Regions from separate parts of the Homo sapiens genome. Here region 2 is linked to region 1. The links come from fine-mapping of genetic effects on gene expression. A gene starts in region 1. The other region holds a variant in brackets. All regions are shown on one strand. Distances are from middle to middle.

Region 1 (8,982 bases):
AGTAAGAAAAATCCCCAGGAACCAGAAACAAATTAGTGAGGAGGATTAGCGAGCTGATGACATAGCTGTCCTAGCCGTGTATGGAATTTGTAACACCCTCATAGGTTCAGAAGACAGATCTTGAGTCCACAAAAGGCACTGAGATCCCTGTGCAGAGGCTGAGATTCTTAAGTTTATACTCAGTAAGATAATAGACTAGGAAAAAAAATCTGTCCAGAGAGAAATAAAAAACTTGCCTTGCTCACCTAGTGAGAAAGGAGGGAAAAACCGTCTAGGAATTCAAAACAGGCTGGGTGAAGTGGCTCACGCCAGTAATCCCAGCACATTGGGAGGCTGAGGTGGGTGGATTGCTTGAGCCCAGGAGTTCGAGACCAGCCCGGGCAACATGGCAAAACCCTGTCTCTACAGAAAATATAAAAATTTGCCGGGTATGGTGGTGTGCACCTGTAGTCCCAGCTACTTGGGAGGCTGAGGTGGGCGGACTGCTTGAGCCCAGGAGGCAGAGGTTGCAGTGAGCCAAGATCCTGCAACTGCACTCCAACCTGGGCAACAAAGCCAGACAGATCCTATCTCAAAAAATAAAATAAAATAAAATAAAATTCTAGGAAGCAGACATTAATATGTAGTGAAAAACAAACAAACGATCAGTGGTTCCTGGTATCAGGGTGAAAGGAAAAACGGACTGTAAAGAAGTATGAGAGCCGGGCACGGTGGCTCACGCCTGTAATCCCAGCACTTTGGGAGGCCGAGGAGGGCAGATTACCTGAGGTTGGCAGTTCAAGATCAGCCTGACCAACATGGTGAAACCCCATTTCTATTAAAAATACAAAATTAGCTGGGCATGGTGGTGCATGCCTGTAATCCCAGCTACTCAGGAGGCTGAGGCAGGAGAATCGCTTGAACCCAGGAGGCAGAGGTTGCAGGGAGCCGAGATTGCACCACTGGACTCCAGCCTGGAGAATAAGAGTAAAATCCATCTTAAAAAAAAAAAAGCATGAGAAATCTTTTGGGGGTGAGAGAAATCCTCTGTATCTTGATTATGGCTGCTGTTTACAGGTGTAGACATCTGCCAAAACTCAACTTTCTTGAAAATTATTACAGACACAAAATTGAAAACATGAGACAAAAACAAGATCACGAAAAACAAGCAGATTTGAAAATGAACCAAAGAGCACTTCTAATAAATGAAAAAGTTAGCTAATAAAAATAAGAATTCAAAAAACAAATTAGACCTAGCTGAAGAGTAAACTAGTATACTAGAAGATAGATATAAGGAAATTATCCAGAAGTTAACACAGAAAGATAGAAATGGAAATTATGAAAGAAAGAATAAGATGTAGACGACAGAATGAGGAAGTTCAACATAAGTTACGCATGAGATCTGAGAGAGGTAAAGAGGTAATGATTGGGAATTTTTACACAATTAGTGAAAAGATATGAAATTTCAGATTAAGGAATTACTATATGCCCCCAGTATATAGTGATTTAAGAAAATTAAATTCACACCATGTAATGGAAGTACAGAACACAAATGACAGCAAAGAAGATCTTAAAAACAAACAGAAAGAAAGACAGGTTACCCACAATAAAATAAGTTAATTTGCAAGCATAGTTCTCAAGAGTAACAACAAAAAGCCAGAATTTCAATGAAAAAACACTTTCAAAGTGCTAAGAGACAATAATTGGAAGCCTAGTACCCAGCTAAACTACCAATCAAGACTGAAAGTGAGCTGGGCACAGTGGCTCATGCCTATAATCCCAGCACTCTGAGAGGCCGAGGCGGGAGGATCACAAGGTCAGGGGATCGAGACCATCATGGCTAACACAATGAAACCCTGTCTCTACTAAAAATACAAAAAATTAGCCAGGCGTGGTTGCGGGCGCCTGTAGTCCCAGCTACTCGGGAGGCTGAGGCAGGAGAATGGTGTGAACCTGGGAGGCGGAGCTTGCAGTGAGCCGAGACTGTGCCACTGCACTCCAGCCTGGGCAACAGAGTGAGACTCCATCTCAAAAAAAAAAAAAAAACAAAAAACTGAAAGTGAAATAAAGATTTTTTAAATGAAGACAGTGTTTACCACTAACAGATTCCCACTGGACAAACATCTGAAGGATGTATGTATCTATGCAATAAAAAAGGAAGGAATAAAATGCAAGGAAAAATAGTGAAAAAGCAAACAGTAGACATACATGGGTAAAATGAAATAATCACTAACAATACAAAACAATAAACATATTTTAATTGTGTTGGGGTCTCACTCTGTTGCCCAGGCTAGCTAAGAACTCCTGGGCTCAAGCCATTCTCCCGCCTGCTCCTCCTGCCTCAGCCTCCAGAGTAGTTGGGATGACAGGGCAAGCCACCATGCCCAGCTACAAAATAATAATTATCAATTAGAATTGTTCAGCTTAGAGATGGATTGACTTTGGGAATGATCTCATTCTAGAAAGTACTCATTTTGAGTCTGGACAACACCTTTTGGTATGTTTAGTGTACACTGGGTAAGAGGCTAAATTAAATGACCACACCATATATTAGGTTAATGCAAAAGTAACTGTGGTTTTTGCCATTACTTTCAATGGCAATAACTGCAATTACTTTTGCACAAACCTAATATCTTCTGATCATAGTTTTATCAATTAGACACAGCTGTCCAAACAGCCCCTGATCAGCTCTGTTCAGCCACCTGAGCAGGGCTTTGCCCTCATCCTAAAAGTTCTAGAATTCAAGTCTTATTTCAAGGCATTCTTCCCACTTCCATGTTCCACATGTAAAAAAGAATTCTACGTTTCTTAACGAGCTTTCAGGTAAGATCTTTAAGCTTTTGGAATGTACCGCTTTTCGCTGTGAACTAAGAGCTTAGACATTACAATTAGTCATCCCTTGCTAGAACTTAGGCTACGAAAAGAATACTTTGGAAGCTTTCACAAAAAAGTATGTGGTTCTTCCTCTAAAGAAGAAAATACCACACAGAAAGAGGGACTGAGGAAACATAAACCCATCTGTGCTGACAGAAAGCTACCTTACATGATCCTCATGTTCGCCCCAGGTTCCCATATATTCACAGCAGTAAAGATCTCCACAAAGCAGAGAGGCCCAACTCCCTTACCATTAAAGCTTTAACGACCAGACAACCCAGAAGTTTGGAAACATAGAACCAGGCAACAGATACTAGAGAGAGGGAATTATGTATTAAAGCAAGAAAATATCATCACGTTTTCAAGAGGGAGTGCCATTCCAGTAAAGAGGACAGCTTAATACTGAGGTTCAAATGCCACTAAATGAAAACGGGAAAGCGAAATTCCTGTGCCCTTTCAGCCCAAGAAATTATTCCAAAGCATACATTTATTCCCATTACATGTCGCAAATCCTGCCTAGCCATTAGGATACAGTGACGAAAAAGTCTCTCGTTATCTAGAAGGGCAGACAAACACGCAGACTTTTAAAATACCAGATGGCAGGCCGGGCGTGATGGCTCACGCCTGTAATCCCAAGCACTTTGGGAAGCCGAGGCGGGCGGATCACGAGGTCAAGAGTTCAAGACCGGCCTGGCCAAGATGGTGAAACCCTGTGTCTACTAAAAATACAAAAGTTAGCCGGGTGTGGTAGCGGGCGCCTGTAATCCCAGCTACTCGGGAGGCTGAGGCAGGGAACTGTTTGAACCCGGGTGGCAGAGGTTGCAGTGAGCCGAGATCGCGCCACTGCACTCCGGCCTGGGCGATAGGGCGAGACTCCGTCTCAAAAAAAAAAAAAAATGACAAGTGCTAACTCAGAGGTAAGCAAAAGAGAGTACCCAGAGGCGGCAGCATCAACCCAGTGGGCTCCCGCCCACCCACAATCTTCACACAGTCACACCACTTATAGTCATAAATTTGTACTCTCCGAGGTGCGTGTATGAAACATGTTATCTGTGAGAGTCCATGGATGAAAAACAAAAACAAACAAAAATTAAAAAAAAAAAAAAAAAAGACTTAACCTGTTTTGACCAGGACAACCACCCCAGGAAGTAGGTAAGGCAGGTAAGGTCATTGTTTACATATATGAAAAGTGAGGCTCAAAATACACTGACCAGTCCAAGACAACGCGCGCCCCCACAAAGCACCTTCCCCGTCCCCATTTATGCCCAACCCATAAACCCAAAGTAGAGCCAACCTCGCACTGGCTACGTAACCCGGGCCAAGCTAAACATTATAAACCTCAGGCTCCCCATCTTTAAAGTATAACAGGTGGTTAGAAGATTAAAAAGATAAACATTTGGCAGGTCATTGTGGACGGTGTAGCTCAGAAAATGCTGACTACTGCACTACCATAACTACTGCTATTGTTAACGATAAAAGGCAAAGACTTTCCAGGACCCGACCCCTCGCTTACAAGCCTTTCGGGAACTTGCCCTATACCCCCGACCCCAGTCACCTTCAGATTTAATTCCACAGACACGCCCCCAAACAGACCCTCCCCTTTAAGGCACCCCCCCCCCCCCCGGCTCCTCCCTCTCAGGCGCCTCTCCTCACAAACCTTACCCCCATAGATTCTGCCCTTTCGGACTCGGTTATGGAGGAGGCCTTCCGCTCGCAGCGGCCTCTCCAGCACCCCTTTTAGGCCTGAGCACCCGCAGGGGTGCCCAGGCCGCACGCCAAACGCGGGCCCGCGCCGGTTACCTGGCTGCGCGCTCCCGCTCTGCCTCGCGATTCTCCGGAATCGTACCTCTTCGTGGGCTCGCGCCAGCGCTGTGAGCGCACAATTAGTTTAAACTATGGCCCCGCCCCCTCGCGCTGCCCTCTGATTGGCCTCTGTCGGCGGGGCCCGCTTAAGGACCCGGGAAAAGGAAGTTTGAGGGCCACTGGGAAAGAGAAGGGGTATCACCGCTTCCGGACCCCGGCCTGTACTTGAAGGCAAAGAGAACTACAAATCCCAGCGTCACCCGCGGCCTTGAAGCCCCGCCCCTGACAAACTGAAGGTCCCGGTAAGCATCGCGTCAGTACTTATGGCGCCTGCCGGGTTGTGGTGACGAAAGCAGTTGCCATGGAGTTGCTCTGAGTAACCCTGAGGCAGTGGGACGCCAAGACTGGAGAGGAAGCGACTGCGGGTGAGTCGGGCGGGAAAACAGGAAACCCGTTCTAGGGGACAAGAGATCTATGGAGAAGGGAGGGGCACTCACAGAACGACTAAGAACCTTCCTGCTCGGGGATCTGAGATTTCCCCCACCGACCCTCATCACCTTTCACAGCGAACAAGATACAACACTCACATGGGACAGACTGGGCGAGGGGGAGCAGAGGGAGGGATAGGCGTTGAGATATATATCCATACAGATTTGGGGATGCTTAAGAACCACCCCCAGGGCCGGGAGCGGTGGCTCACGCCTGTAATCCCAACACTGGGAGACCAAGGCGGGCGGACCACTTAAGGCCAGGAGTTCGAGACCAGCCTGAGAAACATGGCGAACCCTGTCTCTACCAAAAACATAAAAAAATTAGCCGGGCTTGGTGGCGCGCTCCAGTGGCCCCAGCTACTAGGGAGGCTGAGGTAGAAGGATCGCTTGAGCCCGGAGATTGAAGCTGCAGTGAGCCGTGATCACGCAACTACACTCCAGCCTGGGCTATAGAGCGATACCTCCATCTCAAAACAAAACAAAACGAAACAAAACAAAAACAAAACAAAACAACGAACCCCGCCCCCAACGCAAACATAAAGCTCCCAAAATCGGATGCTTCAAGTTCCAGGCATAACCTGGGAGATCAGAAACGCCCTCAGAAATGGGGTTGGTTTTCCTCTGAGGAACTGAGACCCTCTTCCAAGACATGCGGTTAGCATTAGATTGAGTAAATCGCAGTCGCTACCCTAATTCTAGAGATGTAGGAAACTTCCTGGGGCGTGAAGTGCCTCATTCCTTCTTCTTCCAAGGAGTAAAACCCCTTCTCAATCTGTCCCCAGATTCCCTTTTCTCCCCACACCTTCTCCGTGGTCCGCTACTCAAAGCTCTACAGTTAGAGCTTCATTTTTTTTAGTACTCACGACAGATCTATTACATTTAGTAACCTACCCAGTGCTTTCACAGTCTCTCTTTTGATACTCTTAACAGCTCTGTGAGTCAAGGATATTTATCTTCATTTCACAGATTGGAAAACTGAAACCCAGAGAAAAGGGACTTGCCCAAGGCCACACACCAAATTAGTGACAGAGCTAGAACTAGACTCCAGTTCTCCGACTTCCAGCTAAGTCTCTTTAGCTTCAGCCTACTGCCTCTATAGCGGAAGGACTTGTTCCAAGGAACAAGTTAAACTGCCCCAGGGAAAAGGAACCTGTGTGGCCTACTTTGTATTATTTACACTTCAGCTGGAATGAATTTCAGATCCTCCCCTGAAACTTTTAATGGGGAAAAGGAACTAGAGAGACTAAGACAATGAGACTTGAACATTTTTAACTAAACAGGAAACAGAAGGGCTAACACAGCACCCATGTCTGAAGTGACCATGATTAGCTGGTTTCTAGCTGGTGACTAGCTGGCCCTGACTGGTCCACTTACTACCTTAAAGTTCTCCCAGGTTTGGTCCTACGCCCTCTTGCCACTGCACTCTATATTCTCTTCTTGGGTACCCCTCCACACCCACAACTTCATTTTCCACCTGTATGCAAATGTACACAAGTGTGTATCTCAAGCCCAGCCCTCATCTCTAAGCTCCAGATCTATATAGCCAATTGCCTCAACATCTCCTTTAGGATACCTCAAAGGCAACCCAAACTCTACATTTCTGAAATTGAAACAATCTCTGTGTATCCCAACCTTTTCCTCCAAGCCTGGATCTCTTCCAGTGCTCCTACCTTTATCCACAATATACCCAAGCCCAAAACCCAAGTTAGTACCTCTTCCATTTACTTAATACCTCTTCCATTTCCCATCTATCACTAAGTCTTATCAGCTTTACTTCCTGAATATCTTTTATATAGGTCCTAGCTACCATCACATCCTTCCTGCCTTCCCTCCCAGCCATATTTGCGCACTGCAACCAGAGTGATCCTTCAAAATGCAAAGCTGATACTGTTCACTCTCTACCCCACCCCCAATTTTTTTTTTTTCTTTTTGAGACAGAGTTTCGCTCTTGCTGCCCAGGCTGGAGTGCAATGGCGCAATCTCGGCTCACAGCAACCTCCACCTCCCGGTTTCAAGCAATTCTCCTGTCTCAGCCTCCCAGGTAACTGGGATTACAGGCATGCGCCACCACACCCGGCTAATTTTATATTTTTAGTAGAGACGGGGTTTCTCCATGTTGGTCAGGCTGGTCTCGAACTCCCGACCTCAGGTGATCTGCCCACCTTGGCCTCCCAAAGTGCTGAGATTACAGGCGTGAGCCGCCACGCCCAGCCAGCCCCCATTTAATATTAATACTATGTGGTTTCCTATTGCTCCCATCTCTCCAGCCTCCAGTCTAACCATACATATTCATCCTTCTCTCCCCTTCAGTTATATAACCTTTAAGGTCTTCAAAATTTCCAAGTACCCTTCCACCATAGAACCTTTGCATATAGCAGTCACATCTGCCTGGAATGCTCATTCCACACCACCCCCTACCCCATAAGTTAATTTGTACTTATCCTTTAGATTTCTCTCAGTCACTTCTTCAGGAATGTCTTCCTGTAGACTGTTCAGACCAGGTCAGATCCCTCAATTACAGCAACCTCATGGCCCTCTCCTTTGTAGTATTATTTAGTTGCAATTTTTAATGTGTTTGTTAAGCACCTACTACTTGCCGGCACTATGAGATACAACTGTAAGAAAAAATATGGTTTCTGCCCTGCTGGTGTTTATGGACATACAGATAGTAAGCAGATAATTACAGTGTTACGAGTGCTACCATGGCAATCATAGCACTACAATTACAGATTTGAGGATAAAGGTAGACTTCTCAGAAAAGTTGAAACCTGATCTGAGCCCTGAAATAAGAATTAGCAAAGCAAAAGGAGGAGAGAAAAACTATATTCCAAGCAGACAGAGCTGGAAGGAGACACTGTTCCACTTAGAGGCCCAGTGGCAGGTGCAGGGAACTTATGGTGAGTGGTTGCATTTGGCTAGACTGCAGAATTGGAGTTGAGGATGAGATGGTAGTAGAGGGGGGTGGACAGGAGCCAGGTTGAATCTTGGTCCTCCTTTTGGCACCTGGGAATATAACCTCCCAGAATATATTAGATTATGTGGCAGATTTTTCTTCTTTTTCTTTTGACAGGGTCTCGCTCTGTTGCCCAGACTGGAGTGCAGTGGCACAGTCATAGCTCACTGCAGCCTCGAACTCCTGGGCTTGAGCCATACTCCTACCTCAGCTTCCCAAGTAGCTGGGACTATAGGCGTGAGCTGCCATGCCTGGCTAAATATGTGGCAGATTTTTCATAGCAGCCTTTGATTTTTTTTCCACCATCAGTCCATCATCAGAAACTCTCGGGCCAGGCTGTTGAATCTCCTATCAGATTTATGTGATTATTCCTCAAAGCTTCCTGTGTTATCATGTTGCAACTTGCCTGAGAGAGGGCAGGAATAGGCTAGCAACAAATCAAATTCCAAATGTTAGTAATTTCCCAAAACTGAAAACAGTTTTCTGTCAACTTGGGATTGGTTAAATAAATTAAGTGAATAACATTAAAGTACGATACATAGTATAAAATACTTTGCAACTATTAAAAAGGGTAATAGTCTACAACAATTTGAAAATTAAAAAATAGGTTTACAAAGGAATATTGTTTATTTAAAAATATACATAATCTAGGCTGGGCACAGTGGCTTACACCTGTAATCCCAGCACTTTGGGAGGCCAAGGTGAGTGAATAGCTTGAGCCCAGGAGTTTGAGACCAGCCTAAGCAACATGGCAAAACTGTGTCTCTACAAAAAATACAAAAATTAGCAGGGTGTGGTGACGTGTGCCTGTAGTCCCAGCTACTCAGGAAGCTAAGGTGGTGGGATTGCCTCAGCCCAGGAGGCAGAGGTTGCAGTGAGCTG
Region 2 (8,982 bases), 82 kb before region 1:
AGCCCTGGTTTACCTCTAATATACTTTCCATCTCTGTGAACATGCCTATTGTAGATATTTCATGTAAATGGAATCATACAATATTTGTCCCTTTGGCTTTTTTCACTTAGCGTAGTGTTTTCAGAGTTCATCCATGTATAGAATGTATCATTCCTTTATATGGCTGAATAGTATTCCATTGTGTGTGACACCGCATTTGGTTTATTCATTCATCTGTGGATAGGCACTTGAGTTGTTTCCACTTTTTGGCTACTGTGAGTAACGCTGTGAGCACTGGCGTTTAAGTGTGTTTAGTCCCTAGTTTCATATCTTTTGGGTTTATACCGAGAATGGAATTGCTTGGTCATTTGGTAATTTTATGTTTAACTTTTTGAGGACATGCCAAACTCTTTGCTTTCTTAATTATGATAATGCTTAAGTGAATATCTGTATTCATGAAGCTTCTTTGACACTTCCTCTTTTTTTTTTTTTTTTTGAGATGGAGTCTCGGTCTGTTGCCCAGGCTGGAGTGCAGTGGTGCGATCTCGGCTCACTGCAAGCTCTGCCTCCCGGGTTCACGCCATTCTCCTGCCTCAGCCTCCTGAGTAGCTGGGACTACAGGCGCCCCCCACCATGCCTGGCTAATTTTTTGTATTTTTAGTAGAGACGGGGTTTCACTGTGTTAGTTAGGATGCTCTCGATCTCCTGACCTCGTGATCCGCCCTCCTTGGCCTCCCAAAGTGCTGGGGTTACAGGCGTCAGCCACCGCGCCCAGCCTCCTCTTATTTCTTTAAATTCCTTGAAGTGAAATTAATGGGTCAAAAGGTGCAACAATTTGAGATACCATGCTAAATCCTATCTGAAAGGCTTGAACCCCTTTTGCTGCTGCCACAAATGTCTGAGAATGCCCTTGTCACCAAACCAACATGGCACTTAATATTTCACTGTTTTAAATGTTGGAGAATATTGTTGTCCATTTCTGGTGGAACCATAGTCTGGCGACAGAATGGCTTGCCTGACACAGCTTTTGATCACCAGCCCCAAGTCCTTCTCCCTCCCCTTCCCCTTATCCTTTGGTGCTGATCCAGCCCAGTTTATAGGTTCTGTTACATCTAACTTCCCAACTGTCTCTAGTCTGGTCACTTCTCCCCATCTGCCCAGCAAAGATGAGGTCGATTTGACTTGTAAAAGATTACCTTTTCTAAACAGTTTAAAAAAAAAAAGATGTCCTCTAACTCTGGGCCTCCCGCTGCCACTGTGCCTCTTCTCTAGAAGGCCTGAGGTCTCTGTGGAGCTTCCTACTTTGGCTGCTTCTCACATCTTTTCCTATCTTTCCTTCCTGCTATTCTCCTTCAGTTCTACAGCGAGTCGGGCATGCCTACCAAACATCTTTCAGACAGTGTGTGTGCTGTGTGTGGGCAGCAGATCTTTGTGGACGTCAGTGAAGAGGGGATCATTGAGAACACGTATAGGCTGTCCTGCAATCATGTGTATCCTGCCTCGAGCTCCTGGGCCACATCTCTCCTGCAATCTGCACACTGTAGTGAGAGAGAGAAAGAGGGTGGTCATGACCCTAGGCATGCTGTCCAGACCCTTGAGTGTAGGAGAGCCACAAGAGGGCCACCTTCCCTACCCTTTCCCACAGATCAGAGCCACTCTTAGGTAAACAGTGGTTACAACCTGGCTGGGTCTGAGAGGAACCTGAGGCTGCAGCTAGTGAGGCTGTGCTAGCAGACCTGAGATCTGACCAGTCACAGGGGAAGAGGACCCTCTAATGGGATCCCTCAGTTTAGCATCATCCTCTGTTCTGAATAACACTTGTAATATTTATCATGTATTTACCCAGCTCCCATTCTCTGCCTATGTTGGGAAAGCCATGTATTGTCTCCATTTTGCCCCATAACAGTCTTGTGAGATAGGGATCATTATCCTTACTTCACATGTGAGGAAACAGGTTCAGACACAGGGACTTGCCCAACATTACAGAGCTGATAAAGAGCGAAGGCAGGATTTGAACCTTTCAAAGACTGTCTGGGGCTGGAGTGCCGCCCTGGCTCTCACCATTTCCCTTGACCAGCGGTGCTCAGCTTCCACGAGTTCTGCATCCGTGGCTGGTGCATCGTGGGAAAGAAGCAAACGTGTCCCTACTGCAAAGAGAAGGTAGACCTCAAGAGGATGTTCAGCAATCCGTATCCTTTATTGGGGTCGTTGTTGGGAGTGGGCTGTGGGAAGAAAGTACTGGCCAGTGTGACCTGCATTTGGGTCCTCCTGGGGCCCTCACTTCTGCCCCCAACCAGAACATGTCAAACCATGGTGGGAAGCTGAGCTGCTAGTCCTGCCCCCATGATACAACCCCAGTTTCCCTATTCTAGGATTATTGCCTATTCTCAGCCTCCTTGCAGCCATTGTCACGGATAGATAGACTTGTGTCAGCCTCAGGCTGTGTTATCTTACACTGGCAGTTCCTTCTTAGAGAAGGTGTTACAGGAGGCCCTCCCTGCATGTTAGTCATGGGGAACTAGGATTTATCTCTATACCTCTCTCAGGGCTGCCCTGCCTCCAGTACCAGTCCCCTCTATCTGCCTCCCACCTTCTCTGCATTCAGCTCTTTACCCCAACAGACAGGCTGTGAGGAGGAAGAGGAGGGGGAGGGCAAAGTTGGGAGGGCTGCCTGAGTAGGAAGTGAGGCTGGGCCCTTCCAGAAAGCAGCCTCCATTCCTCTAGGCTGTGGAGCAGCTGGAAAGTGGGGCAGACCCAGGGAGCCCCACCACCCATGCTAGATCACTCCTGGCAGCTCTTGCACAGAGTCTCTTTTCTTTAACACACTGACAGCTGGGAGAGGCCTCACGTCATGTATGGGCAACTGCTGGACTGGCTTCGATACTTGGTAGCCTGGCAGCCTGTCATCATTGGTGTAGTCCAAGGCATCAACTACATCCTGGGCCTGGAATAGTGATGAAGAGCATCAGTGGAAAACCCACCCCACACGCCATGGACCTCAGGGCACTCTCCTCCCTGCCCACAAAGACCTCCTGGGTGGGAAAGACTCAAAGGGGTGCTTGGGCCACTCAGGACCCCTCTGGCTGTGTCGGACTGGGGAGGGATATGATGGAGAGCCAGCCAGTGGGGCTGTCAGCAGTGGGGGGCTTTTTAAAAGAAAACTATTTTGATGAATATATTTAAAAAACCTTTTTTTATTGTGGAGCATAGGAATTGCCCCCCTCCAGGCTTCACCCTCCCTGCCTAAGCAGGGTGGGGGCAGAGCCATGACATTTTTGGTTTAAAGGAGCCTTCTCATCTCTGGCCGAGAACACTGCTGGGCTCCCAGGTAGCTGAAGGCCTCAGCCCACCCACTCCCTTCTTCCCTGTGTGGGGCTCAAGCCTGGTGCACTTAGTATAGAAGAGCTAACGTACTCAGGCTTGTGCCACGGGTGAGCACTGAGGCCCCAGGTGTCCTCCCTCCCCCACTGTCTGGGACACAGGACAGGTGTTGCGTCTGACTCTGTCTCCCCCTGTCCAAGAGCTATAGGCTGGTTGAGGCAAGTGGAACCTTATCAGTGACTTGGCCAACAAGGGAAGCCTTGGGGCCTCAGAATTCATTGAAGATTTGTTTTGGGACAACTGGAAGAATCAGCACCATGGATACTCGCCCGTGGGCAGGGCTGTGGTCAGCCAAGAATAGAGGTCATATAGTTGGGCCATGGGGCAATTGTTGGCAGCCATGACTGACGGCCCCTTGTGCAAGCTCATTCTTCAGTGGATCCTTCAGTGGAGTGGTGACACGTGCCAGCGGTCACTCTGCCACATCACTTCCTTCTTGAAAGCCTAAGAGTGCGTATGCGTGTGTGTGTGTGTGTGTGTGTGTACGTGAGGCAGAAGAATATGACAGATGTCAGCTTCTCCCTGTGTCAGATGATATGTCCTTGAAGCTGGCAGGGGATTCCCAGTCCAGGGAATATCCCTACATGATTTTTGTCATTCATGGGTCCTCCCTGGGCCTGACAACGGGAGTGGTGGGTGGGTGAGAACAGGTTCTGAGAGGGGGCTTCTAGGAAGGCCCCAGCCCTAGTCCTAGGCGACTTGAATAAAGTGGGAGGTCAAACATGGGCCTTCGGCATTGGGTTTCTAGGGAATATGGCTCAGTAGGGCCTGCCCCTTCAAGGGCAGCAAGAACGAAGCAGGATGTTGTCACTCCCGTCTGAATAAAGCTCCATGAGCTGGGTTGGAAAGCTGAACATTTATCTTGCTTTCTTCTTCCCACCTCTTTCCCTGGGGTCCCCAGGGGTGTCTTGCCTTTGTTAACCCCCATCGGAGACCTGAGGGTCTGGGGGTGGTTGGGCCTGCCTTTCTGCTGTTCCCAGCTGTTCCCCTGCTGACATCCCTAGGAGTGGTGGAATGCCAGGCTCCTGTCCTGTGGCCTGGGGGCCTGGGGCATCATTGGGCCTGCCTTCAGACTGAGGTTGCTCTATGTTCTCACTGCCTGAGGACAGTGTCCCGCCACCACCTGCCTTCCTGAGGACCACACTCAGGCTCGGCTTCTCTTCCCCAGCTGTGGCTTCCCATGGTACCCTGCTGCTTATGCCACCTGTGGGGCTGTTCCCCTCCTCAGAGAGGGGAATGGGGCTGGTCAGAGGACCTAGGGATCACCCTTCCTTTTACTTTTTCCCCCCACCCCCCTGTCAGGCTCAGGTGAGAAGCCGAGGCCAGGCTGTCCAAAGCTCTTTTCATGTGTAACAGTTCTGAGTCCCTTGACCTCCCCCCTTGGCCTGACTCTGGTCTCGGTTCCACTAAGACAGAGTCCTGTCATCTTTCCCTACCATCCCCCACTGGACTGTCTCTCTCAGAAACCCCAGGCAGCCTTGCCTCCTGACCTAACTCCTGGAGATGCTGGTGTTCTTGGGAGGAATTTCTCCTGCATCTTACATGCTAGAAGCCCCTGGGGCAGGAGGTAGGGGGAGGAATTGAGAGGAGGAAAAACATGAACTAGACACCTAGAGAAGAAGGATGTGACTTGTAGTATCCTATGTCTAAATTAGGAATATGAATCTGGTTTTTCTACAAGAAGTTTGAGATCACAGCTGACTGTGTTCCTGATGCATCCACCAAACCCAGTTCCATCTGTGGGCCTCCCTGGCTCTGTCACCAGCCGTTGCACCCTCCCAATCACAGGAGTCACAAACCTCAGACATGCAGCTCCTGTCCACACTTAATATATGCATGCATTGGATCACCCAGCCCTGGTCTTTCTGCCTCCATGGATAACTGCATGACCCTGAGAGAAAACCTCCTTAGATTTAGCATCCTAGGTTCCTCAC[A/C]CGCCTCACCCTGAATCCTGGCCCTCCCGCAGCCCCAGCGCCATTTGTCCCATCAGTGACAAGATTCATATTCTGATGTAGACTCTGTTGCCAGAGCCAGTGTTGAGCCAGTCCGCCTCTTCCCCGGGAAGTGCCTGCCCTTCCCTCCTGTTAGGGTTGGCTCTCGAGCTTGTGTGCCAGTTCCTGGGTTGGCCGTGAGAGTTCTACAGACAAGGAGGAAGTGCTCTCGGTGTATTTCCTGTGGTGGGTTCACACGCAGCTAGACACAGCTAACTTGAGTCTTGGAGCTCCTAGAGGGAAGCTTCTGGAAAGGAAGGCTCTTCAGGACCTCTTAGGAGCCAGGTAGGAGTCTGGGACTACTAGTGAACCTAGACCTGTGGCTCTGGCCAGAGGGGCTAGGATGAGAGACAGAGGGTGTGATGGTGGGTGCTGGGAGATGTAGCCGACCTTGGGGCTGGTGGCTGGGGGAGTGGGTAGCCTGGGAAAGGCCAGGATGTGGACGGACTGGTATGGCATTGAGCCTGAAGTGGTCCAACTTGGGGTTCCCCAGTGCCTAGGAAAGTTGTCCCCTTGAATGTCAGTGTGAAGGTGAAGGAGGAAGCAGATGCCTGTTCATATGGAAACAAAGACCTGGCTGTGAAGAGGGGAGGCGGACACCAAAGTCCTGACACTTGGGCGGGACAGAATTGATCTGTGAGAGACTCATCTAGTTCATACCCTAGGTGACCCTGGGGGTGGCATGGGGGTAGATTAGAGATCCCAGTCTGGTATCCTCTGGAGAGTAGGAGTCCCAGGAGCTGAAGGTTTCTGGCCACTGAACTTTGGCTAAAGCAGAGGTGTCACAGCTGCTCAAGATTCCCTGGTTAAAAAGTGAAAGTGAAATAGAGGGTCGGGGCAGTGCTTTCCCAGAAGGATTGCTCGGCATCCTGCCCTTCCCAGAAGCAGCTCTGGTGCTGAAGAGAGCACTGCCTCCCTGTGTGACTGGGTGAGTCCATATTCTCTCTTTGGGTCTCAATTTTGCCTTCCCTAATGAAGGGGTAAGATTGGACTAGGTAAGCATCTTACAACCATTTGTGGTCATGAGAGCTGGGGTGGGGAAGGATTGTCACTTGACCCCCCCAGCTCTGTTTCTAAGTGCTGAAAGAGCTCCAGGCTATGCTACGGGAGGAGAAGCCAGCTACTGAGGAAAAGCCAGCTACTGAGAAAAAGCGGGAGTGGTTTACCATTCTCCTCCCCCACCTTTCACCAGAGAAGAGGACGTTGTCACAGATAAAGAGCCAGGCTCACCAGCTCCTGACGCATGCATCATGACCATGAGACACAACTGGACACCAGGTAGGCCTTGGGGCTACGCATGGGCAGGCGGGGTAGGGTGAGGTCTATGAACAGAATGGAGCAATGGGCTAACCCGGAGCCTTCACTCCAAGGCAAACCACCCAGCGCACCTGGTGCTGTTGCTTTAAGAACCTGGGCAGATATTGTAGCTCTGGCTCCAGTCTAAAGCTTCTCTGTACTCTGTTCAATAAAGGGCTAAGGGGTGGGTGCTGAGGGGTCCCTCTTCCCGCTCTGATTCCCTGGCTAGAACCCAGACATCTCTGGGCTGGAGTTACATCCTTACCCGGGCAGCCCACTCTGTCTCCAGAGCCGCTGACCTGTAACTGTCCTTTCCTCAGACCTCAGCCCTTTGTGGGTCCTGCTCCTGTGTGCCCACGTCGTCACTCTCCTGGTCAGAGCCACACCTGTCTCGCAGACCACCACAGCTGCCACTGCCTCAGTTAGAAGCACAAAGGACCCCTGCCCCTCCCAGCCCCCAGTGTTCCCAGCAGCTAAGCAGTGTCCAGCATTGGAAGTGACCTGGCCAGAGGTGGAAGTGCCACTGAGTAAGAAGCACAGTGGTGGAGGGTGGGCTATGGGCACAGAGGTTCCCAGGGTCGGGTTGACTCCTGAGCGCCAGTCCCCTTCTGCCCATGTACCACCAGCTGAGCCAGCTGGGCTGAGCACGCACCATTCTCCCTCCCCAACCCAGTGTCATGGGTGCAGGCTTGGCGCAGCTCCCAAGATGCTCCCTATCAAATAGGACAGAGAACTCAAGACATAAGTAATGGTCACAGGACCTCCCAGAGCCTTGGTTGCAGTGGACCCCAAGGCCAGCCCCTCCACCCAGAGCCTGCTGGCCTCTGGCCATCTCAGAGGAGCAGCAGCCATCCAGCACTGCCTTTGTCACCTGGGCTCCCAAGTCACCGAGGCTGGGCACTAGAAAAGGTCATCCTGAGGAGACAGGTTCAGAAGAGGATTCATCACGTGAACCAAGGACCATTCCTCACATTCCCCGTGTTTAGGGCTAGGGCCTCTCGGAGACAACTGCACTTCTGTAACGGACGTTCCCACCTAGGTGGTGTGCAGAGCAGTTCTCTAGGTTCCAGATGCATGGGGACTGGGGGGAGCTGGCAGGGAGGGCACAGCAGAGCAGGGTAGGGGAAGGGCCTGCTCTTCTGAAGAGCTAACTGCTGCCTGTGTCCCTAGATGGAACGCTGAGCTTATCCTGTGTGGCCTGCAGCCGCTTCCCCAACTTCAGCATCCTCTACTGGCTGGGCAATGGTTCCTTCATTGAGCACCTCCCAGGCCGACTGTGGGAGGGGAGCACCAGGTGAGGGTCGCAGCAGCCAGGTGGGTGGGAAGGAGGCCTTCTGCGGCCTTCTCATGACCTTTCCTTCCCTTCCGCTCCAGCCGGGAACGTGGGAGCACAGGTACGCAGCTGTGCAAGGCCTTGGTGCTGGAGCAGCTGACCCCTGCCCTGCACAGCACCAACTTCTCCTGTGTGCTCGTGGACCCTGAACAGGTTGTCCAGCGTCACGTCGTCCTGGCCCAGCTCTGGGTGAGGAGCCCAAGGAGAGGCCTCCAGGAACAGGAGGAGCTCTGCTTCCATATGTGGGGAGGAAAGGGTGGGCTCTGCCAGAGCAGCCTGTGAACTAATGCCCAGCATTCCTCAAGGTCAGCCAGACAAAAAGGAACTTAGGTCTTGGGCAGAGGAGGTGTAGCCTGGGGCAAAGTGATGAGATGTCCCTCCTTTCCTTGGCCTGATCCTTGTCTGCCTTCACTTCCCTAGGCTGGGCTGAGGGCAACCTTGCCCCCCACCCAAGAAGCCCTGCCCTCCAGCCACAGCAGTCCACAGCAGCAGGGTTAAGACTCAGCACAGGGCCAGCAGCAGCACAACCTTGACCAGAGCTTGGGTCCTACCTGTCTACCTGGAGTGAACAGTCCCTGACTGCCTGTAGGCTGCGTGGATGCGCAACACACCCCCTCCTTCTCTGCTTTGGGTCCCTTCTCTCACCAAATTCAAACTCCATTCCCACCTACCTAGAAAATCACAGCCTCCTTATAATGCCTCCTCCTCCTGCCATTCTCTCTCCACCTATCCATTAGCCTTCCTAACGTCCTACTCCTCACACTGCTCTACTGCTCAGAAACCACCAAGACTGTTGATGCCTTAGCCTTGCACTCCAGGGCCCTACCTGCATTTCCCACATGACTTTCTGGAAGCCTCCCAACTATTCTTGCTTTTCCCAGACAGCTCCCACTCCCATGTCTCTGCTCATTTAGTCCCGTCTTCCTCACCGCCCCAGCAGGGGAACGCTCAAGCCTGGTTGAAATGCTGCCTCTTCAGTGAAGTCATCCTCTTTCAGCTCTG

Evidence for each region.
Region 2: its variant is fine-mapped to the expression of NUMA1 in whole blood (TOPMed, PIP above 0.99).

What each region holds. Positions count from the first base shown.
Region 1 is chr11:72,075,805-72,084,786 of GRCh38, forward strand. It overlaps NUMA1 (nuclear mitotic apparatus protein 1), which reads right to left and starts at 4,738. Exons shown (of 27, transcript NM_006185.4): 1 at 4,654-4,738. It overlaps LRTOMT (leucine rich transmembrane and O-methyltransferase domain containing), which reads left to right and starts at 5,046. Exons shown (of 9, transcript NM_001145310.4): 1 at 5,046-5,081. LRRC51 (leucine rich repeat containing 51) reads left to right here and starts at 5,046. Exons shown (of 6, transcript NM_145309.6): 1 at 5,046-5,081. RefSeq lists enhancers at 4,149-5,104, 4,824-5,093, 5,105-6,059.
Region 2 is chr11:71,993,384-72,002,365 of GRCh38, forward strand. It overlaps RNF121 (ring finger protein 121), which reads left to right. Exons shown (of 9, transcript NM_018320.5): 7 at 1,336-1,469; 8 at 2,067-2,168; 9 at 2,812-4,214. The coding sequence ends at 2,932. IL18BP (interleukin 18 binding protein) reads left to right here and starts at 5,526. Exons shown (of 6, transcript NM_001039660.2): 1 at 5,526-5,636; 2 at 6,544-6,629; 3 at 6,968-7,174; 4 at 7,818-7,941; 5 at 8,022-8,169; 6 at 8,401-8,982. The coding sequence starts at 6,602. The coding sequence ends at 8,478. The variant A/C (reference allele first, on the strand shown) is at 5,295.